7 linked regions of the Homo sapiens genome follow. The protein of the gene in region 7 purifies or fractionates together with the protein of the main gene of each other region. This does not show direct contact. Each region holds a gene or a part of one and is shown on either strand. Other genes may lie near its edges.

Region 1 (3,500 bases), on a different chromosome or scaffold from region 7:
TAGTCGGCTAATCCAACCTCCCATATCCACACCATACTCTTCTCTAATGACTGAAAATTCATAAATAAAATTAAGTTCCAGGACCACCAGAGCACAGGACTCATTCAACAGTCCTCAATATTCTTATGTGGTTGAAGCGTTTAATATCTAATTTAATCATAATCTGAAATGTTCTTAAAAAGTGGTTATTTTTTAAATCTCAAAGTAAGTATCAAGGTAAGTTGTTGGTACAGTCATTTAAATTTCAGCTCCATTTTAAAAAATTAATTGGAGGACAAAAATCAGCAGGGAATATTTCAAGATATTTTCTTTTATTAACTATTTAGACTGGATACTGTCTGTTGACATACAAATTTGATCCACTTTAACTAATATGAATGTTAAAAAGACACCCTTACAAAACTGGGACAGTTTTCCCCCAAATTTCTGGCTTATTTCTCAGAAATGCTTGTTGGTCTATCAAAAGAGAAAATTTGCTGCATTTTTCTAAACTAAAAAAATGATAGAGCATGTTGATTCTGCTCTCAGCAATATCTTTCCTTGTTAAATAGGGAACTTATGGGGATTATGGACTATATTAGGAGAAATGTTTTCAGTCTCATCTGCAATATTTATAAAAATAGGATTCCTTGACCTTCAAAGGGCAAAACTTAAAAAAAAAATGAAAATGAAAAAAGAAAATCTACTACAAAAGTCAGCACTTCGGTACCTGGTTGTGGTAATAAGGCCAAAATCCAAGACGAAGCCCTTTATTGCACATGGTGTTCCAACATCTTGGGCAGCCCCATCTTGCGACCTCTCCACATTGGCTGCTCCTGCTCTCTCTACTGCAGAGAGAACTTCAATTAGAGAAATTCTGAAGCTCATAAATCTAAACTGGATACTCCCCTCATTGGAGGCAAAGATGGTAAGACTCACTAAAAAGATTCAAGTTAGAGGAGGTTTCAAATAAATCTAAGTGGCTTGAAACCACTATAATTCAGGCAGCTGAGAGTCTTATTACGGCAACAATCTATTTACCTAAAAAAATATATATATATTAAGGGAAAAGAATGGCAGCAAATTACTAGACAACCTGAAAAAACAGAACATATAATCATAAAAGTTTAAAAAGTGAAAGTCTCCACTAAAGTTGAATTTATAATATATACTGCAGAAACTTATAGCTGACCATTTATATTCAATTCTTACGAGAAAAGCAAGTAAGAAAAAAACTAGGACACATTATTAACTTCTTATTCCCTAAAATAACTTCACTGAAAAAAATGTTTGGTTAAAACCACTGGTTAAGAAGCAGACGTTTCCCTGCTGACTTAAGCCTAGCTGCCCATGCAAGGCTTCAAAAAATGTCTTCACCTACAACAATGTATAGGCAGAAGGAGCAGAGGCTATGGCGGTCTTCCTAATGACACTTCCAAGTCACATAAATGGGGTATATTTCTGGGATGGACTGCCAACAAGTTACTGAAAGAGATATAAAAACTCCAAAAACCTGGCATATAAACAGGCCCATGCCCTCACGTGTTTTATTATGATATAAAAGCAAATCTTAACTAAAGTTATCCTGAGACTAACAGATCTCAATCACATCCTCCATACTAACATTACCCGATTTGTGAAAGACCAGGTAAGTTTTCAAGCTAGTTTTCCATAAAGATTTGTAATGATGTATAACATGTATAAAGCATTCCCTCCAGTAAAGAAGAAGCCCCACCCGAACTCAGTAATTAAGATTTTTCAATTAGAGGAAGAGACAAACAATTTGAAGCACCTTTATTACCATAAATTTGTTATCAAAAATGTGCTGGTATGTGCTGTGCGACAGAAAGAGGTTAATTCTGTTTAGAATCGTATTTACTAATTTTTAACAACAATTTTTATCTTACCTGAGTGTGAAAATTTGAAATGGTGGTTGTTTCAATATCTTTCTTGCCCAGAATTTCCATTTTCACTGGAGTGTTGGGGAAATTAAAAGCAAAGTAGTCCAAGAAGTCTGGGAGATAAGCAGCCGCTCCATGCACTATTGCTAAAGCATAGTAAGCAGCATTTTTCTCATTTTCACTGAATGTCAAAGCAAGAAACTCCTCAGAAAATCTCTCCATCTCCATTGGAGACAAAAATGAGAGTTCATCCATGTAAGCATGAAGGACAAGAGCACCACCATTGGACTGGTGTTCCTCATGAATAAAGTTGCTAAATTTAGTACCTGTTTTTAAGAAATTTCTACGAATAGAATGTTCCTGGTGAGTCATAAAAGGTGTTTGTACTCCCTGGGGTACCCGATATTCTTGCATACCCAAATTTAATCGGCACAGCTGTTCATCTTTCAGATACCTGAAGGACTCCTTATTAAGTCCTGAAGTGCTATTTATTTGTCCTTGGGTGAGAATTTCTTTACTGATGCGGGTCAGGCCAGCACAGACGGTTTGTACTTCCTTATTGTACATTTTAAGGCGTCTTCCTCGCATGTCTTCTCGGTGTTTCTTTTTCTTTTTCTTCTTTATTTTCTTCAAGACAAAATCATCGGCTCTCTGGGTTTTACCATTTTCATCTGGTGTTTCTGGCCACAATAATTAAAAAGAAGTTAGTTGCTAGGACTAGTGTCAACATACAAGCTTCTTAAGGTACTTGATCTCATTAAATAGCCTATCCTCAATTTCTCTGAATTTGCTATTACAACTTACGTGTTTAGAAAACAAATGAGACAGAGATCTTAAATATAATAATATTCTGGATTGAAGAAAAGAATAAAATTGAAGGTATCCATTTTTCAAAGCAGTATATTACTGATAATGGAGAAAAATCAGAAATAATTCACACATCCAAAAAACAGAGAATGGTTAAATAAATCATGATATAGCAATGGTATGAAACATTATACGATAGCTAAATATGATGATTCTGAAATCTATGTAACAACATAGATTCTTTTGTTCAGTTATCATCATAAAATTTAAATTTAAGCTAGGCATATTTTGCTGTCAGCCTATGAATTACTATGATACATACAGGTAAATCAACAAAGGCAAAGTAAGCCATGAGATATCATTTTTTCCTATCAAGTTGGCAAAGTCTGCGGTTTCTGGTCATTCTCAACTACTACTGCTGGAAGTATAAACTGGTACAACTTTCTGAAGGGCAATTTCATGATACATGTTAAAAGTCTTAAAAAATATTTCTAATCCTCAGACCCAGAAATTCCACTTCCAAGTAAAAGTTATCTAAGAAAATAATTGAAGATTATATAAAGATATCCATTACAGTATTATTTAAAACGACACAACAGGGAATGCTCCTAAATGTCTAATAACAGGGGACTGATTAAACTCTGGTAGTTACATATTATAAAACACTACTCAGCCATTGTAAAGTATATTATAGATGAAAAAACTGACATAAAAATTAGAAGGTTACAAAATGCTTAGACTCATTCTTTCAGAAAGCCTTTTCTTCCCCACCCAATCTGGATAGCTACTCCTGCTATGGGCTCCCTTAAGCTT
Region 2 (3,500 bases), on a different chromosome or scaffold from region 7:
TTCCAGCTGAGCTTAGCTTCTAGAATGGTGTAGGTTTTGAACATCCTGTAAATTGCATTTGTTTTCCTCTCAGCAGTTGCTGAGCAAGTAAATGTTCCAGTAAGATTTTTCAAATGGGCTGGGCCTAGCGGCTCACTGCTGGAATCCCAGCACTTTGGGAGGCCAAGGTGGGAGTATCACTTGAGCCCAGGAGTTTTAGACCAGCCTGGGCAACATAGAGAGACCTCATCTCTACAAAAAAATAAAAAAATTAGCCAGGCATGATGGCGTGCCTCCGTAGTTCCAGCTACTTGGGAGGCTAAGGAAGGAGTGTTGCTTGAGTCCAAAAGGGTGAAGCTGCAGTGAGCCATAGTTGCACCAATGTACTTTAGCCTGAGTGACAGAGGTTTTTTTCCCCGTTTCAAGGGGAAAAAAAATTTCAAACGACTTAAGACAAAATAAAAAAGATAAGACATAACCCAATGAGTATTGCTACACTCCTCTTTCTGCTACATTTCGAGATAGTTTGTGATCAATGTATTTAGAAAATTAAATTACATTTATAGTAACAGGTATGATTAATATATAGCAAAATGCCATGTTCTGTTTCAGTTTGATACAAATCTATTGTTGAAGTTATTTTGTTAATCATTAATAATATTAAATATATATCTCTTTTTTTAACCCCTTCATGCTCTTTAATGAAACAAGATCCAGTTGTTAAACCTAAAACAGAAAAAGAAAAGCTGAAGGAACTCTTCCCAGTCCTTTGCCAACCGGACAACCCTTCTGTTCGGGTACTGATACCATTTTAAGAGTGTCTACTATAAATATATATTCTCAACCCCTTTTCTTTGTCTCATAGTAATTTTATTAATTTTAAGTTTGCCTTTGTTGTAACTTATTTTTAAGAATGAAAGTGTTTGATCACTCCCTGAGCATGTACTATGTATTGAATTTGTTAAGGGGTTCTGAGAATGATATTCAAGGGAAATGAGATTGGGAATTTGGGGAAGTAGTGATTAGGAATATGAAATAAGGTTCTGGAACAGATGCCTAAGGTGTGAAATTAGATTTTTTTTTTTTGCTCTGTTACTTGTTAAAGGTCTAATTTTTAAAGCATTTTGATTTTTAAATTTCATTTTAATAAATATTTATTGAGTACTTACTGTATGCCAAACACTGTTCTAAGTACCTGGATAACAGCAGTGAACAGAACAGACAAGAGTTTCAGCCTTTGGAGATTATATCCTAATTTTGGGGTAGGGAGCAGGAAATAAACATGTAAACATTCTGGTGGGGAGGAGATAGGCAATAAACAAACAAATAGGTATGTAACATAGCAGATAGCAATAAGGGCTATTTAAAAAAATAAAGCTGGAGTGGGGGTAGGGAGGAAGAGTGCAGAGGGAGAGTTGCTTTTTAAAATTTTTAACACCTGTTTTCTATTAATATAATCATCACTTGCATTCTTTCATGGCAGGGATGATTAATATCTAACTGCCTTTCATAGAATTCTATTAAGGACAGAGGGGATTTGTCAAATGTAGCAGTAATTCTCAAGAGCCTTTTTTCCATTTCTTCTGCATCTATCCTGAATCAAGTTTGAAATCTCTGCCCCTCTTCTATTTCCCTCACATAGTGATTAGTGATTTATAGATGTACCTGAGGTACATACAGATTCTTGAGTAGTTTTTTTTCCTAACTTTGCCGGCCTCTACCTCTGCAGACCATGTTGGATGAAGATGATGTGAAAGTTGCTGTGGATGTCCTGAAAGAACTGGAAGCTTTAATGCCCAGCGCAGCAGGCCAGGAGAAGCAAAGAGATGCTGAACACCGGTTTGTCCTTAGTGTCCTGTCCTTTGGAAGTTTAGGGTACTGTGACAGTTGAATATTATGGACCAGCCAAGCAAAATTTTGGGCAAGTTTACAGAATCTGGACTGGTCATATATCATATTGTTGGATCTGTTTTCATTGCTTCCTGCTAAGTGTATGTAGCAAATGCTAGGTTGTTCAGAATATAGAAGTCAGGGTTGAAAGAGGCTGAATATGTTTGTGGCTCAATTCTTTATTGGCTTATAGGGATGTCGTAGTTATTGAAACTCTAATTCAGTTCAAAACCTAGTGGGTACCTACCATGTGCATGGCACTGTACTGGGTGCTTGGGGATGCGAAGATGAAATCGGATTGGTTTCTTTTTTAAACAGGTGCTTATTGATTTGTTAGGGACAGGACAAAGAAGAAGAAGCGGAGTCGAAGCCGAGATCGAAACCGAGATCGAGACAGAGATAGGGAACGAAACCGAGATAGAGACCACAAGCGGAGACACCGATCCCGCTCTCGATCACGTTCCAGGACCCGGGAGAGGAATAAAGTGAAGTCTAGATATCGGTCCAGGAGCAGGAGTCAGAGTCCCCCCAAAGACCGGAAGGACCGGGACAAATATGGAGAGCGGAATCTGGATAGATGGCGGGATAAGCATGTGGACCGCCCTCCTCCAGAAGAGCCCACCATTGGTGACATTTATAATGGCAAAGTTACCAGCATCATGCAGTTTGGTTGCTTTGTGCAGCTGGAAGGACTAAGGTAATGACTGGTGCTCTTTTGTTCACACCAGTGATGGGCAGAATTTCTTTTATCACTGAGGATGTTCACATTCTAAAAAGTTACTTTGATTAATGACACTTTAGTCAAATCAGCCATACATGGTTCTTAGAAATTGACTCTTTTGAAATGTTACAGAGCCATTTATTCCTTTCTCTGTCTTCAGGAGATCTGTCCTTTGCTTGTTGGGACAGATAGAATTTGCTTCCCCACCCCATGTCTCCCCATGAGGAGAGTGTTAATACTATTTTATTGTTTGACCACCTTCATGGTACTTTTCTCTTGAGTTTAAGACCATTTTCTTTTGTTAGTTCCAGTAAGGGTAGAAATTGGTTGGGGGAAAAATATTTTTTGGCATGTTCCAGATGTGTCTGGCTCTCCCTCAGGAAGCGGTGGGAAGGCCTGGTGCACATCTCTGAGCTCCGGCGGGAGGGTCGTGTGGCCAATGTAGCTGATGTCGTGAGCAAAGGCCAGAGGGTCAAAGTCAAAGTGCTGTCCTTCACTGGGACCAAGACCAGCCTGAGCATGAAGGTAGGTGAGATGGTCAGCCTGTTCTTACATGTGATGGCCAAGGGAATGGAAGAGGACAGCAAGTGAGACAGCTCCCTTGTTTTTGTGCCTTAGGATGTGGATCAAGAGACTGGAGAAGATCTAAACCCAAATAGACGGCGAAATCTTGTCGGGGAGACCAATGAGGAGACCTCAATGCGGAATCCTGATAGACCCACTCACTTGTCCCTTGTCAGTGCTCCTGAAGTAGAGGACGACTCACTGGAACGCAAGCGCCTCACCCGAATCTCTGACCCAGAGAAGTGGGAGATCAAACAGGTTGGGGCCTTTAGTTTTCATGACCAGATAGTCATTCAGCATGTAGCATGGTGCTTAGGGGTGTGCCCTGGAGCACGATGGCCTGGGA
Region 3 (3,500 bases), 1.6 Mb from region 7:
AGTAGCTGGGATTACAGGCATGTGCCACCACACCTGGCTAATTTTTGTGTTTTTAGTAGAGACGAGGTTGTTACCATGTTGTCCAGGCTGGTCTCAAACTCCTGACCTCATGATCTGCCCGCCTCAGCCTCCCTAAGTGTTGGGATTACAGGCATGAGCCACCAAGCCCGGCCCTTTCCTATGCTTAGATGCACAAATACTGTGTTTCGGTTGCTTACAGTATTCAGTACAGTAACACTGTACAGGTTTGTAGCCTAGGTGTGTGTAGTAGGCTATACCATCTAGGTTTGTATAAGCACATTCTTATGATTGTACAAAGATGAAATTGTCTAACAACACATTTCTCAGAACCTAGCCCTGTGGTTAAGTGACGCATGGCTGCATATAACATTTAGTGGGGGGGTGTAAAATAGGTGGAACTCAAAAGTTGAAGTAGTATTTTTTTTTTGTTCACAGGTCAGTTTAGGGGCTGGTGCAAAGGATGAGTTGCACATTGTTGAAGCAGAGGCAATGAATTACGAAGGCAGTCCAATTAAAGTAACACTGGCAACTTTGAAAATGTCTGTACAGCCAACGGTAAGGGCACTTACATACTTTGGATGTTGTGTCAAGGTTTAATTCTGTTTTAAGGTAGGTTTGGTGTCATTTAGTTGTGCCAAGGAGATAGAAAGTGGTTCTTTATCTTCTGTCACTGGAGTTCGATGGTCAACTCTTGAACATGGGGGCTTCTGCTGCTACTTTTATCAGAGGTGGAAAAACAGGTTCACTGGTTTGTTGATTTGGCTTATGTGTTTGCCTGTAATGTTTATTGTTCATTTTCTTCACATGTTTAGTGATGAAAAATTTCTCCCTTCTAGGTTTCCCTTGGGGGCTTTGAAATAACACCACCAGTGGTCTTAAGGTTGAAGTGTGGTTCAGGGCCAGTGCATATTAGTGGACAGCACTTAGTAGGTATGTTATTTTTATATATTATACTACTTAGTTTGTCCTCTTTAGTGCAGTTGCTTGGTTCCCAGTTTGGACTTAAAGCATGGGTATAGTACTACTGTCTTTTTAATAGGTTCCAATGTGAGTCTAGAAATTGGAGAGGACAAATAAATTTTTGGGGCGGGGGGGAGAGGAAATCTTGCTGTCACCCAGGCTAGAGTACAGTGGCACGATCTTGGCTCACTGGAACCTCTCCGGGATTCAAGCGATCCTCCTGTCTCAGCCTCCCCAGTAGCTGGGGCCACAGACGTGCACCACCAAGTCCAGTTGCGTTTCATAGTTATAGTAGAGAAGGGGTTTCGTGATGTTGGCCAGGCCGATCTTGAACTCCTGGCCTTAACGTGATCTGCACGCCCTGGCCTCTCAAAGTGCTAGTATTACACGTGTCAGCCACTGTGCCTGGCCTAAAAATTATTTTTTAATAAAGACAGTCTCATTATAACGGCTGGAGTGCAGTGATGTGATCATAGCTTGCTATATCCTCGAACTGCTACTGGGTTCACCTCAGCCTCTGGAATAGCTAGAACTACAGGCACACTCCACGCCTGGCTAATTTTTTTTGTATATGTGCAGATGGGGTCTCAGTATGTTGCCCAGATTGGACTCTTGGCCTCAAGTGGTCCGCCTTGGCCTCCCCAAAGTGAGATTACAGGCATGAGCCACCCTCCCCAGGCTTCTTGCATTTAAAACCTGGCAGTGAACATTAGGCCTCAAAATACTTTTGTTAAAAAGTTCCTTTTCCCATGTGCTCTTTTTTTTTTTTTTTTTAAATAGAATAGAAGTCTCAGTTTTTAGAGTATTTACTATCAGTGTTCTTTTTTTTTCTGACTTCTTGCTGCTTGAGTTTTATAATGTCTAATAAATTGTATTTTAGCTGTGGAGGAAGATGCAGAGTCAGAAGATGAAGAGGAGGAGGATGTGAAACTCTTAAGTATATCTGGAAAGCGGTCTGCCCCTGGAGGTGGTAGCAAGGTTCCACAGGTAGAGATGGCAATTTTATTATAGGTTTTGTATTATAGCTTTTAGTTTGGTGATAGAACAGCTCTTGTTCATGAGTACGTATCTTTTCTTTTAAAAGAAAAAAGTAAAACTTGCTGCTGATGAAGATGATGACGATGATGATGAAGAGGATGATGATGAAGAGTAAGTATGATTTTAGAAACTTGATATACTTCCGGAATCTTGACAAAAAAAGGAATTTGACATAGTTATATGCATGAGGGTTTTATAAAAGTCATTTACAAAAAGCCATCCTATGTAATAGTTTATAATAAAAGGGCAGGTGGTCATCTGTTGTCAGTTTAAGTTAAATGAGCTGAGTTGAAAGGATATTGGGTCTGTGAGCCTTTACAATGCTGTGACTTGTGACTCTTCAGAAGGGTAGACTATAGTGTTTGTGAAGTTTGATTATGTCCCTTTGTTCTGAAGATTTAGTGGATGTGTTATACCCATCAAGCCTGGTATGTTTTATGGTGAGCAGTTAATGAGATTGGGTTGAAAGAAAATATGATTAAATAGCTCTATATTCATTTTACAAGTTGTTACTCAAGGTTTGTTATTCCCTAAAAGGATTTTGTCTTATGGTTTTATGTAGATATTTATTGACAAAAATAAGATTCTAAAAGGGATATTAAGATTTTCTTGGGATTTAAAATATGGTTGGAAACAATATTTGATGACTTTATATTAAACTAGATCAAACTATTGTTACAAACAGTTAATACGCACACTGGTATAAAGTACTGTTTATAATTGGTCTTATGTGTGCCAGTACCAGTAATGCATTGAATACTTTGATTTGGCTCTCAGCTTTGTCCTTCAGTTCTGAGGTTGGTCCATATGCATTTATTGAAAACAAATATAAGAACATGCACTTTAAAAGAGAACCTGCATGAAAGATCAAATTGGGAGTTTAGGTTTTAAGCTGGTGGTTCTTCAAAATCTTTGAGCATGACGATGAAGGCAGAAAACAGGAAAAAGGCCGAAAGAGCCGAAAGCTTAAAAATTCAAAGTATGACCAGGCGCAGTGGTTCACACCCGTAATCCTAACACCCAGCCAAGATGAGAGGATCTCTTGAGGCCAGCCCGGTCAAAATAGCAAGACCCAATCTCAAAAGAAAAATAAAAATTCAAAGTACTTGCATGTCAAACTTATAAATGAACGCAAACTTAAAGGTAGTATTTGACTGTTGCTGTTTTTGTTTTCTTTTTTTTTTTTTTTTTTTTTGAGATGGAGTCTCCAGTTGCTCAGGCTGGAGTGCGGTGGCGCCATCTCGGCTCACCACAACCTCTGCCTCCTGGGTTCAAGCGATTGTCCTGCCTCAGCCTCCCGGGTAGCTGGGACTGCAGGCTCGGGGCACCATGCCCTGCTAATTTTTGTATTTAGTAGAGACAGGGTTTCAGTATGTTGGTCCGGCTGGTCTTGAACTCCTAACCTCGTGATCTACCTGCCTCGGTCTCCCAAAGTGCTGGGATTGCAGATGTGAACCACTGCGCCCAGCCAAATTTTTGTA
Region 4 (3,500 bases), on a different chromosome or scaffold from region 7:
TACAAAATTAGCCGGGGTGGTGGCGCATGCCTGTAATGCCAGCTACTCGGGAGGCTGAGGCAGAAGAATCGCTTGAACCCCGGAGGCGGAGGTTGCGGTGAGCCAAGATCACACCATCGCACTCCAGCCTGGGCAACAAGGGTGAAACTCCATCTCAAAAAAGAAAAAAAAGTTTAGTCAAAAAACTGGCTGGGCACGTGGCTCATGCCTATTATTCCAACACTTTGGGACGCTGAGGTGGGTGAATCACCTGAGGTCAGGAGTTCGAGACCAGCCTGGCCAACGTGGAGAAACCCCGTCTCTACTAAAAATACAAAAATTAGCCAGACGTGGTGGTGTGCACCTGTAATCCCAACTACTTGGGAGGCTAGAGGCAGGAGAATTGCTTGAACCCAGGATGTGGAAGTTGCAGTGAGTCAAGATTGTGGTAAGTGCTAGGCTAGGTACTTTACAAGGTACAAAGCTGCCCCCTCCCCTCCCCACAACAAACCACAAAAAAGATTTCACGAATATTTACCAAAGAAGGAAAATCATAGTCAATTCCTTTTTTAGCTAATTTCTTCCTGAGTAATCTTTCTTTCTTTTTAAATCGCTCCTCCATCCGTAGCTTTTGTGTTAGTGTCCGATTCCGATTATACCGTTTCACTGATGGATATGATGGCTGCTTAAATGGAATATTCCAGTCTTTAAAGAGTTCTTTATGTACTTTTTCAGGTGGCATAAAATGACCTATTTTCAAAAAGAAAAAAACATAAAGGTATTTTAATGTTAACTTTAGAATCTCCGCAGTGCCATTCCTCACACAACAAAATGATATGGCTGGGTACAGTGGCTCACACCTGTAATCCCAGCTTCTCTCACAGCAATGCGAAGTGAATAGAGAGACAAGACCTGGGCAGCCTTGTCAGCTGTGAACTTGGGTACCTAAGACGGCCACATGCCACCATGGGCACAGGGAAGCCAGAAACTTCGCTTTGCCTCCCAAGGGCAGCAGGATCTGGACAGGGATGCTCTCTGCACCCTATGGACTGCAGGGTAGGGGGCTTCACTGGCTTCTTTCTGCAGGATAAATTACTCATCTGGTGCGTCACTCCTCCACTCCCTCTGGCTTCTCTCGTGTGGAAGAGCTACAGCCATTGCCATTTAGACAGATTTTGCAACGCGATTCCTGACCTTTGATGCTATCCCCACTGCCCTCAGGATAAATTCGGAACTCGCTGACTTAGAAGGCCTTCAGTAACCTGACCTGAAGCCTCTTCTTGCTCCTTCATCTCTTGCTACTTTTCCTCACATTCTCTCACAGCTGAATGGTTAGGCATCATTGGTTTGGCATTCACTGTCCCTCAGCCAGGAATGGTCTGTCTTCACTCCTGTCCCCTTCACCTGGCTCACTCCTGTTTAGTCTTCAGGTTTCAATGTCAACTATACTTCCTTAGAGAAGCCTTTCACAGCCCATAAGGATGGGTTAGCTGCTCCTCCCATGTGTCCCCAAGGTAACTTGTCCAGTTCCATTTAGGGTAAAAACAGCTCTCAGGCTAGATTTTAAAATTCCAATTAGAATCTGCCTGCAACATACACTGAAATCCTTGCACCATTCTGTAAGACTCATCCCAGAGATGAAGTGGCATGTCCAAGCAGCTAGGCAAGCCGCCCTTCCCACCACAGTCACCCACCAACAGCAGGCACCCAGGCAACCCTGCGGTAAGACAGGAGCACTTACACTCCAAGAGTCTTTCACCAAACAGGTAGTTGTTCATTGTTTCAGCAACTATTTTGGCAACATCCTCAGACTCAAACTCCACAAATGCATAGCCTTTGCTATTTCCAGTCTGCAACAGAGAAACCGCCACAAAAAGTAGAACAATTAAATTTGAATGCGTCATCAAATTCCTAAAATGCCATTATTTTAAATAATGTATATTAGCCCCTTATCAAATATTACGTACGACACGCTTAATTCTAACTTCAATTCACATATTCCGGGGACTGTTATGGGAAAAAGAAAAGATGCACGAGTCTGAACACACAGCTGATTTTCTGGTATTCTTGGGATTTTGGTTACATATGATAAATACACAATTCCTATGGCTGGAATTTATTCAGTAACAACACTCCGTGATATTAAAAAAGTCTTCAACTTAAAAGTCACATGGCTTAACAGTGGGAATCAGGAGGCTCATTTCCAGCACCAGTTGTGTCAGTAACAAGCAACTTGGACACTTCCACAACTGAGTCTCAGCTTAATTATCTTCAACAGGTGGATTCTGGGAAAAATTTAAATCCCTCAAAATCCATTTATAATCCCAACACTCAAAAGAGAGGGGAAGGCCAGGCGCGGTGGCTCACCCCTGCAATCTCAGCACTTTGGGAGGCCGAGGGTGGATCATCTGAGGTGAGGAGTTCAAGACCAGCCTGGTCAACACGGTGAAACCCCATCTCTACTAAAAATATAAAATATTCACTTTGGGAGGCCAAGGAGGGTGGATCTCAAGGTCAGGGGTTTGAGACCAGCCTGGCCAACATGGTGAAACCCCATCTCTACTAAAAATACAAAAAATTAGCTGGGCATGGTGACATGTACCTGTAATCCCAGCTACTCAGGAGGCTGAGCCAGAAGAATCACTTGAACCTGAGAGGCAGAGGTTGTAGTGAGCTGAGATCGCGCCACTGCACTCCAGCCTGGGCAACAGAATAAGACTCCATCTCAAAAAAGAAAAACTAGGCCAAGAGGGGTGGCTCATGCCTGTAATCCCAGCACTCCAGGAGGCCGAGGTGGGTGGATCACCTGAGGTCAGGAGTTCGAGACCAGCCTGGCCAAAATGGTGAAACCGTGTCTCTACTAAAAATACAAAAATTAGGCCGGGCACAGTGGCTCACACCTGTAATCCCCACACTTTGGGAGGCCGAGGCAGGTGGATCACCTGAGATTGGGAGCTCAAAATCATCCTGACCAATATGGTGAAACCCCATCTCTACTAAAAATACAAAAATTAGCTGGGTGTGGTGGTGCACGCCTATAATCCCAGCTATTCAGGAGGCTGAGGCAGGAGAATCACTTGAATCCGAGAGGCTGAGGGTGCAGTGAGCCAAGACTGTGCCACTGCACTCCAGCCTGGGCAACAGAGTGAGACTCCATTTAAAAAAAAAAAAAAAATTAGCCAGGCATGGTGGCAGGCACCTATAATCCCAGCTACTCGGGAGGCTGGGGCAGGAGAATCACTTGAATCCGGGAGGCGGACATCGCAGTCAGCTGAGGAACTGTGCCACTGCACTCCAGCCCGGGCGACAGAGTGAGACTCCGTCGCAAACAAAACAAAACCAAAACAAAACAAAAAAAAAATGAATAGAATGAAATAGAAAATCAGCGCATCACACAAAACAAGTTTAAATATTGTCTCATTTGGCTTTTATTTCAGTTATGCTTACATGCATATGTATGTGTGCTGGTTTGTGCTGTAAAACTTTTTTTAAAACCCTCATCTTCTTTGTGATGGTAAAAA
Region 5 (2,316 bases), on a different chromosome or scaffold from region 7:
ATCAAGGACAAACAAATCACAAGCGCACAAATCTGATGAGTGCCAGGTGGGGTGCACATTTGGGAAGATGCCCCCACGTGGCTCTGAAGGCTCTTCCTGGGGGAGGCCTGCTCTCAGCTGCCTGCTCCTTCGGGAATTCAAACCCCAGGCAAAGGCAGCTGACCCCAGGCAAAGGCAGCTGGCCCCAGGCCAGAGAGGTCCTGGCTTCCCAACCTTGAGCTGTGCAGTCATTACCTAGGTGCAGGCTGGGCTACAGGGACAGCCAAGCTGAGCAAGGACAGGTCCCCGCAGCCTAGACTGGGGCACCGCTTCGTTCTCGGTCTCACTCCCCGCTGTGCCGTGCTTTGCCTGTGAGACGGCGGCGCTGGGCCTTGCTGGTACGAGGGGCCCTTGGGGGCTTTTTGGAGTCCTGGGCCCGTCGGGGATGTTTCCTCTTGACCTTTTTGCGGCTGTGTGCATGTAGTGATGCTGTGAGGGAGGAGATCCTAGGGGAGGGCAGAAAGCCTCAGTTTAAGATTGCATTGTGGGGTGACTCACCACCTGGCTCACGGAGGGGATGTCAGGACAGGTTGCGAATGCCAGGACCGCCAAGTTCATGCCAGAGTTGGCCTGCTCTACCTCCAGAGTGCCTGCCAGCAACTCAGCTCAGAGACACAGGCCCTTCACCCAGGCACGAAAAGCACTGGAGGTCAGACACTATCAGGGGTGGGTGGGACAGGACGGGGCAATGAGGAGAGGCAGAGGATCACTGGACAGGCAGAGGGCTGCTCCGGGCCCTACACCTGCTCCACACCACCCTAAGGGCCAGGTCACTACTGCCAGCCAGGAGGGGTGGGACCGGGGAGGCAGCAGGCCAAGACTCACCGCTGAGAGAGCAGGGGGTCTCTGGACTTCCTGGGCAAGGCTTTGGTTGGTTTCTCCGTGGATGACGCCTCCTCCTCAGACCTGTCTCCAGCCCCTCCCTAAAGAGGCACAAGACAATGACTTACATGGAGCAGTAGCTGGGGGGACCTGGGCTGGGCACCCCGAGCCACCATGGCTCTGGCAAGTGGTGGCGCGCCCTGCTGCATCACAGGCCTGGGTTGGGACTAGAGAAGGCTTCTGATGGAAGAAGTCTATCTGCCCTAAAGCAAGGATTACACAGGGGAAGGTCTGTTTCCAAACCCTTTCCTGCCCCTAGAAGCTTCCAGGACATACTTAAACATTCAGGAATGAAAATCCTAGCAAAACGGGGACAAGACTTGTCTTTGTATCAGAACTTGCAGAATAGTGAGCATAAAATGAAAGACCGGTGTGAGATCAGTATGGTTTTGTTTTGTTTTGTTTTTTGAGATGGAGTCTCGCTCTGTCACCCAGGCTGGAGTGCAGTGGCACAATCGTGGCTCACTGCAACCTGCGCCTCCTGAGTTCAAGCAATTCTCCTGCCTCAGCCTCCCGAGTAGCTGGGATTACAGGTGCACGCCACCATGCCTGGCTAAGTTTTTTTTGAGACGGAGTTTTGCTCTTTTTGCCCAGGCTGGAGTGCAATGGCACGATCTCGGCTCACCACAACCTCCACCTCCCAGGTTCAAGCTATTCTCCTGCTTCAGCCTCCCGAGTAGCTGGGATTACAGGCATGTCCCACCACACCCAGCTAATTTTGTATTTTTAGTAGAGACAGGGTTTCTCCACGTTGGTCAGTCTGGTCTCGAACTCCCAACCTCAGGTGATTCGCCCGCCTCGGCCTCCCAAAGTGCTGGGATTACAGGCATGAGCCACTGCGCCTGGCCCCCTGGCTAATTTTTTTACTTTTAATAGAGACGGGGTTTCACCATGTTGGCCAGGCTGGTCTCAAACTCCTGACCCCAGGTGATAACGCCCGCCTTGGCCTCCCAAAATGCCGGGATTACAGGCGTGAGCCACCATGCCTGGCCCTGAGATCAGTATGGATGTGATAGGGGAGTGGCTCCAGGACTTAAGAACACAGTAACCCACACAAGGAAATGTGTTTTATATCGTAATTGTGTGCATATATGTCCATAAATCCTTAGGCACACCCAGATACAACTCCAGTGGAAACAGCTGTCTCATGAAACAATATTTAACATGACACTTTCGGATATTTTCAATTATATTTTTTTTTTATGCTGATTGCAACCTACTCATGATTCACAACCCACAGGTTGAAAACCCACTTAGTGCACACAGACGTGCCAGGGCTGCGAATCGCACAAAGGGAACGATCACAACAAACGGCTACCTTTTGTGAAGCACTTATGACAGGGCTGGGCACTGTGCCAGGTGACTCACATGGATTAACCACTTTCACCCTCATAC
Region 6 (3,500 bases), about 98 Mb from region 7:
TATTATTATACATGGTAAATGAGATGAAAAAAATGTTTAGAATGTGAATTCACTAGACCTTTGCTGTACTGGATTTCACAGGTGAAAAGATTTCTCTAAGATTTCTGAACTTTTAGTGTCTTCTCACATACTTCTAGTGTAAACAAACACTATAAACTTAACATCTGTATTAATGCTACCTACCTTTTTTAGGATTAATGATTAACGAGATTTTGAAGATACTTCAGTTAAATTCTCAGACACATAATTGTGTATTAACCTTTTTGAAAGGCATTTTCAATGAACACTGGTGGTTTTTTCAGGAAATTGCTGAATACCCACTCACAAATGCAGATATTGATGAAGTAGGATATTTGTATATTTGCTTTTTTTCAATCATTCAGTTTTATGAACATGGGGTCAAAGCGTATTTCAAAATAAAGACCATTTATAAAACTGGACCACTTTAATGTTTACAATTTAATAAATCTCTTCATTGCAGACATGTATGGCTGTTTGGTAGTATTCAGAAACATCACAGTAATGGCAGTTTCTTCAATTGGTGTGTAGTCCTCAATAATTATATATGAAATTGCTGTCAAACCAGTAAGACTGCATTTATACATCCATCATTTTCAGGATTGTTGGTAACCTGGGCATATTTTCCTAAGGAAAACAAAACCAAAAAAGGGAAAAGGGAGGGTTGTTAGCTAATAAAAATTAATTTTAAAGAATATAACTTTTGCCTTTTTTTTCTTTTTGTCTTAATACAGGGTTTCACTCTTATTCCCCAGGCTGCAGTGTGGTGGCGTGATCTGGCTCACTGCAACCTCTGCCTCCTGGGCTCAAGCGATTCTCCTCACTCAGTCTTCCGGGTAGCTGGGACCACAGGCACACGCCACTGCCTGGCTAATTTTTTTGTTTTTGTATTTTGTAGAGATGTGGTTTTGCCATGTTGCCCAGGCTGGGCTCGAACTCCTGAGCTCAAATGATCCGCCTGCCTTGGCCTCCCAAAGTGCTGTGATTATAGGTGTGAGCCACTGCGCCCAGCCATGCCTAAAATATTTCTAATTACCACTTTCAATAAATAAGAAATGAACCATAAAGGATAAATGAGATTTTACAAAATTCAATCATTTAAGGACAAATTTGAGTTCTGAATACAATTTTCATACAAATAGTGTTTTTGCAAATAATGGCCAGCTCCATGTTATTAGTACATTGCATTAACAGGCTTTTGTGGATTGACCTGAGCATTGTCACTTTTTCACATAATTCTTCCTGGAAAATGTATCAAGTTTCAAATGAGTTTCAAGTCAAGGTAACAACATATTTTAAAACTGAGGTCAGCTGACATGAAGTATAAACCAATGACTGAAGAAGTTGTAGCGTGTATTCTTCCCTTTCAAAGAAATTGGATCTGGGTACTAAAGGTAGAAAACTAAGCAAATGAGGGCGTTTAAAATTACTGCATGACACATTTCTGTTTTAATTATTACTGATCTAGTGTGATTATATGTTGTATGCCTCCCTCGGCTCATGGTTAATTTATTCTATTTTTTTTTTACAATTTTTTTTAGTTATAACTTTGCATCTGCTTCCCTTGTAATAAAGAATTTTTATTAAAAAAGATCAAAATATTTTTATTTTACTTATTTTTGAGATGGAGGCTTGCTCTGTCTCCCAGGCCGGAGTGCAGTGGCATGATCTCAGCTCACTGCAAGCTCCAGGTTCATGTGATTCTCCTGCCTCAGCCTCCCGAGTAGCTGGAATTACAGGCACCCACAACCACACCTGGCTAATTGTTTTGTATTTTTAGTAGAGACGGCGTTTTGTCATGTTGGCCAGGCTGGTCTCCAACTCCAGTCTCAAGTGAACCGCCTGCCTCGGCCTCCCCAAGTGCTGGGATTATAGGTGTCAGCCACTGCGCCCAGATAGCGAGGGGGCTTTTTAAAGCCTGGAAGCTTCTACATGATTTCTGAGACCTGTTAATGGGAATTAACAGAACGAACTAAACTGTGTTAAATCACTTTCAATTATTATTATTACTTTTTGAGACAGAGTCTCGCTCTGTCATCCAGGCTGGAGTGCAATGGCACGATCTCAGCTCACTGCAAGCTCCACCTCCCAGGTTCAAGCGATTCTCCTGCCTCAGCCACCGGAGCAGCTGGGATTACAGGTGTGGGCCACAACACCTGGCTAATTTGTGTATTTTTAGTAGAGATGGGGTTTCACCATGTTGGCCAGGCTGGTCTTGAACTCCTGACTGCAGATGATCTGTCCGCCTCAGCCTCCCAAAGTGCTGGGATTACAGGCTGAGCCACCGCTCCTGGCAGTTTCAATGATCAGTTTACCTACGTGGGACAGATAGTTCTATTTCTTTAAATGTAATAGGTATTTTCTCTTAATGTTAGCATGTAAATATAAGAAGTATTTACATAATATAAAGTTGTGGCAAAAGAAATTTTTTCTTACGGAAGACATCTTTAGTCATTGGCTAATACTTCATGTAAGCTGACCTCACTTTTAAAATATGTTTGATATATGCCTCCCTTCCTCTGCTCATGGTTAATTTATTCTATTTTCTTATAATATTTCTTAGTTATAACTTTGCATCTGCTTCCCTTATAATAATTTTTATTAAAAAGGTTAAAAAAATTTTTTTTGAGATGGAGATTTGCTCTGTCTCCCAGTCTGGAGTGCAGTGGCACAATCTCAGCTCACTGCAAGCTCCGCCTCCTGAGTTCAAGTGATTCTCCTGCCTCAGCCTCCCAAGTGGCTGGGATTAGAGGTGCTCGCCACCACACCCGGCTGATTTTTTTGTATTTTTAGTAGAGGTGGGGTTTTGCCATGTTGGCCAGGCTGGTCTCAAACTCCTGACTTCAGGTGATCCACCCGCCTCAGCCTCCCAAAGTGCTGGGATTTACATGCGTGAGCTGCTGTGCCTGGCTAAAAAGGATAAAAATAAATCTAGCAGAATGTATTACACCTTATGTAACTAAAACCAGTAAGCTAAATTTTAAAACAATTGTATTTATAACAACTTTTTCTATAAAGTATTTTTTACTAAATATTTACATCTGATTTACAGTGTTTTAGCTCTACTGCATTAAAAAAATTTGCTGTATATTTTATTAATACATCAACTTGAATAGTATTTCTATTAGTACTGCAGAACACAGCAGCCCTGTATTCAAAAATTCACTTACCCCAAATAACTTTGCCTCCTTGTGTCACAAGGCCCAATTCGCTCACATTTACTTCAATGACAGTACCTTTGGTAATAACACCCAAAGTTGTATACAGTGGGGATGAGGGATTCTTCTTTACACCAAGTATTGGTAGGCAAAAGGTGGCTTTCAGTTCAGGATGTGTTACATGGGCTTTCTTGAAACGCAAGCCCTAGTAAGTCAAACACAACATAAGAATGTTTACGTCCAAAATGTTAACAGTGATGAGTAGTGGTCGTTTTCGCTTATCTTTTTCAACCATCTCCAAAAAACTATGGTTGAATAATGTCA
Region 7 (3,500 bases):
GTGATAACCACCTGTTGGGAGTGAGAAAACAGGTCTTTATTTCTGCATCCCCACCAGCTATTGAGCAATATAGACATCATAAGTTAAGTAAGACCTCAGCCATTCAGCTTTTAAGGAACTGAAACTCTGGAAGGAAAACAGACCCTGTAACACAATACAAAATAGGAACACAAAGGAAAAATAGCATGTTCCACTAGGTAGGCATGAGGGCTACAGGAAGATATATTCTCTCTTATTCCTCTGAATATTATGTGGTAGGGGAAGTGATGCCTAGAACACTTGGAAGCCTCTTGCAACCAGCTTAAAGACACAGCCATCGGCCGGCCATGATGGCTCACACCTGTAATCCCAACACTTTGGAAAGCCGAGGCGGGCGGATCACGAGGTCAGGAGATCGAGACCATCCTGGCCAACATGGTGAAACCCCATCTCTATTAAAAATATAAAAATTAGCTGGGCGTGGTGGTGTGTGCCTGTAGTCCCAGCTACTTGGGAGGCTGAGGCAGGAGAATTGCTTGAACCCAGGAGGTGGAGGTTGCAGTGAGCCGAGATCGCACCACAGCACTCCAGCCTGGTGACAGAGCGAGCATCCGTCTCAAAAAAAAAAAAAAAAAAAAAAAGACACAGCCATCACCAAGAAAGGCAAAACAGAAAAGAGAAGAGAAGAAAAATCTGGATCCTTGATGATATCACAAAGCTACTGAATCAATCAAGTCCACCTGGCCTGCCTCAGCCAACTGTGCAGGGAGTACCAAAACACCAATAACTTTGAACAGTATTGACACACTCCATGGCTGCTACTGCCACTCAGTCCTTGACCATACCTTGCTTGGGTGAATGCCCACGTGGACAGTTGTGCCGTTGGCCTTCTCACGCTGCACCCGCTCGATGTAGATGACATATTTCTTTCTGTACACCTGGACTACCTTGCCAATTTGCTGACCTTTGTAGTGTCCTCGAACTACCTAAGAGAAAATACAAAAGAGAATCCCCCTCCATTTGTAGTGCATGATCATAAAGAGGAAGCTAACCATCAGGAACACATGGGCTAAACATATAACTTTGTCAAAAGCAGCTTAATCCTGGCAGTCAAAAATTAGCTACTTTTCTGATATAAATCTGTGTTGTGCTATGGTTGGGTGGAGATTTTTTACCTGGATCCCACAGAAATGTGCGATATGAGCTTTAGAGGAAAAAGGAGAATACAAAACTACATATAGAATATACTCTGAACTATATATATATACATATATATGTCAAGTATCCCTTATTCGAAATGCTTGAGACCAGAAGTGTTTTGGATTTAGGGTTTTTGGGATTTTGGAATATCTGCATTACTAGCTAAGCACCCCAAATCTGAAAATCTGAAATCCCAAAAGCTCCAAAGAACACTTCCTTTGACCATCACGTTGACAAAGTCTCAGATTTTGGAGCATTCTGAATTTGAGATACTCAAACTATATGAGTGTATGTGTGTGTGTATATATATAATATATATTACATATGTGCGTATATGTATTTATATGTCATATATACATACACGTATCATATACATACACATATGTACTTATATGTAACATACATATATGTCATACATACATATATGTACTTATATGTCATATATACATATATGTGTATACATACGTATATATGTGTATATATGTATATATACACACACATTTCATATATATAGCATGACACAGTGGGATAAAATATATATATAAATATTGGTAACAGCTGCCATTAGGCAGGAAGCAGGATTACAGATGACTGATTTTTAGATTTATATTCTTCTAAATTTCAACATTTCTACATTTAATACAAATATTTTAAAGTCAGAAAAAAAATTTTAAATCTCACAGACTGTTTTACTGTACTAAAAATCTACTCTATTCAAAAACCAACTAGATTAGGGTTTCCTTGAAAGCAAGAGCTTATTTATTTATTTATTTATTTTTGACACGGAGTCTCGCTCTGTTCCCCCAGGCTGGAGGGCACTGGCATGATCTTGGCTCACTGCAACCTCCACCTCCCAGGTTCAAGTGATTCTCCTGCCTCAGCCTCCCAAGTAGCTGGGATTATAGGCACGCACCAGCAGGCCTGGCTAATTTTTGTATTTTTAGTAGAGACCAGGTTTCGCCATATTGGCCAGGCTGGTCTCGAACTCCTGACCTCAAGTGATCTGCCTGCCTCGGCCTCCCAAAGTGCTGGGATTACAGGTGTGAGCCACCATGCCCAGCCACAAGAGCTTATTAAACACCATGCATGGGGGCCGGGCACGGTGGTTCACACCTGTAATCCCAGCACTTTGGGAGGCCAAAGCCGGTGGATCATGAGGTCAAGAGATCGAGACCATCCAGGCCAACATGGTGAAACCCTGTCTCTACTAAAAATACAAAAATTAGCTGGGCGTGGTGGTGGGCGCCTGTAGACCCAGCTACTCGGGGGGCTGAGGCAGGAGAATCACTTGAACCTGGAAGGCGGAGGTTGCAGTGAGCTGAGATGGTGCCACTGCACTCCAGGCTGGCGACAGAGCGAGACACCGCCTCAAAAAAAAAAAACCACCAGGTACGATGTGACTCTGATTAATAAGCATAGAGGAGATACCACATATAAAGAACTAGAGAACCCCAATACTCCTAAAATGTCTACGTATAGCTTGTTTGGCTTATTTTCCAAGGCGATTTTTAGGTTGAAGAGGACAATCATATCTCAGTGAAAAATCTACCACAGACTACATGACCAGAGACTCTCAGGACACACCTGGAAGAAGTCTTGTTAATACCATCAAGACTGAAGAAATACACACATACACACTTTTTTTAAGAGACAGGGTTTCACTATGCTGCCCAGGCTGGTCTCAAACACCTGAGCTCAAGAGATCCACCCACCTTGGCCTTCCAAAGTGCTGGGATTACATGTGTGAGCCACTGCACCTGGCCAAGACTGAAGAAAGATCTTAGGCCGGGCATGGTGGCTCACAGCTGTAATCCTGGTACTTTAGGAAGCTCAGGCAGGTGGACTGCTTGAGTCCAGGAGTTGGAGACCAGCCGAGGCAACATAGCAAGACCCCGTCTCTACAAAAAAAAAAAAAAAAAAAAAAAAAAAAATAGTTAGCCAGACATGGTGGCATGCGCCTATGATCCCAGCTACTCGGGAGGCTGAGGTGGGAGGATCACTTGAACCCAGGAGGTTGAGTCTGCAGCAACCTGTTTTTGCACCACTGTACTCCAGCCTGGGTGACAGAGTGAGATCCTGTCTCAAAATAAAATAAAATAAAAAATTAATTTAAAAAATTTTTAAAAAGAGAAGTGGACAACCTCTGGACATAGTGAAGAGGAAGACAGGAGACAGGATAAGACTAAGTCGGCTGGTCGACTAGACTGGAGAGGTGAGGATGAAGAGGGAAGGATGATACTCAGAGTCTGGCTTGGGCAACCAGGTGGATGGCAATGCCATTGCCAGATGCAGAGATCATAGGGGAAGCCCCGTATTTTAGG

Evidence for each region.
Region 1: the proteins of RPL26L1 (region 7) and RSBN1 purify together in Homo sapiens (affinity purification with mass spectrometry; 3 studies listed by BioGRID and IntAct, with this or other methods). This does not show direct contact.
Region 2: the proteins of RPL26L1 (region 7) and DHX8 purify together in Homo sapiens (affinity purification with mass spectrometry; 3 studies listed by BioGRID and IntAct, with this or other methods). This does not show direct contact.
Region 3: the proteins of RPL26L1 (region 7) and NPM1 purify together in Homo sapiens (affinity purification with mass spectrometry; 3 studies listed by BioGRID and IntAct, with this or other methods). This does not show direct contact.
Region 4: the proteins of RPL26L1 (region 7) and NIFK purify together in Homo sapiens (affinity purification with mass spectrometry; 3 studies listed by BioGRID and IntAct, with this or other methods). This does not show direct contact.
Region 5: the proteins of RPL26L1 (region 7) and NOL12 purify together in Homo sapiens (affinity purification with mass spectrometry; 3 studies listed by BioGRID and IntAct, with this or other methods). This does not show direct contact.
Region 6: the proteins of RPL26L1 (region 7) and NSA2 purify together in Homo sapiens (affinity purification with mass spectrometry; 3 studies listed by BioGRID and IntAct, with this or other methods). This does not show direct contact.

Annotation. Positions count from the first base shown.
Region 1 is NC_000001.11:113,795,477-113,798,976, forward strand, and holds part of RSBN1 (lysine-specific demethylase 9), read right to left. Parts: intron 2,561-3,500; coding exon 1,887-2,560; intron 828-1,886; coding exon of another isoform or gene 825-827; exon of another isoform or gene 1-824. UniProt on the Homo sapiens protein: Histone demethylase that specifically demethylates dimethylated 'Lys-20' of histone H4 (H4K20me2), thereby modulating chromosome architecture.
Region 2 is NC_000017.11:43,490,475-43,493,974, forward strand, and holds part of DHX8 (ATP-dependent RNA helicase DHX8), read left to right. Parts: intron 1-690; coding exon 691-776; intron 777-1,708; coding exon 1,709-1,818; exon of another isoform or gene 1,819-1,900; intron 1,901-2,187; exon of another isoform or gene 2,188-2,206; coding exon 2,207-2,566; intron 2,567-2,970; coding exon 2,971-3,115; intron 3,116-3,208; coding exon 3,209-3,412; intron 3,413-3,500.
Region 3 is NC_000005.10:171,390,849-171,394,348, forward strand, and holds part of NPM1 (nucleophosmin), read left to right. Parts: intron 1-456; coding exon 457-576; intron 577-857; coding exon 858-951; intron 952-1,861; coding exon 1,862-1,968; intron 1,969-2,065; coding exon 2,066-2,130; intron 2,131-3,500. UniProt on the Homo sapiens protein: Involved in diverse cellular processes such as ribosome biogenesis, centrosome duplication, protein chaperoning, histone assembly, cell proliferation, and regulation of tumor suppressors p53/TP53 and ARF.
Region 4 is NC_000002.12:121,730,376-121,733,875, forward strand, and holds part of NIFK (MKI67 FHA domain-interacting nucleolar phosphoprotein), read right to left. Parts: intron 1,830-3,500; coding exon 1,721-1,829; intron 730-1,720; coding exon 518-729; intron 1-517.
Region 5 is NC_000022.11:37,689,343-37,691,658, reverse strand, and holds part of NOL12 (nucleolar protein 12), read right to left. Parts: intron 963-2,316; coding exon 865-962; intron 486-864; coding exon 323-485; 3' UTR 1-322. UniProt on the Homo sapiens protein: Multifunctional RNA binding protein that plays a role in RNA metabolism and DNA maintenance. Participates in the resolution of DNA stress and the maintenance of genome integrity by localizing to sites of DNA insults.
Region 6 is NC_000005.10:74,773,749-74,777,248, reverse strand, and holds part of NSA2 (ribosome biogenesis protein NSA2 homolog), read right to left. Parts: intron 3,382-3,500; coding exon 3,189-3,381; intron 646-3,188; coding exon 578-645; 3' UTR 1-577. UniProt on the Homo sapiens protein: Involved in the biogenesis of the 60S ribosomal subunit. May play a part in the quality control of pre-60S particles.
Region 7 is NC_000005.10:172,965,924-172,969,423, reverse strand, and holds part of RPL26L1 (ribosomal protein uL24-like), read right to left. Parts: intron 966-3,500; coding exon 825-965; intron 12-824; coding exon 1-11.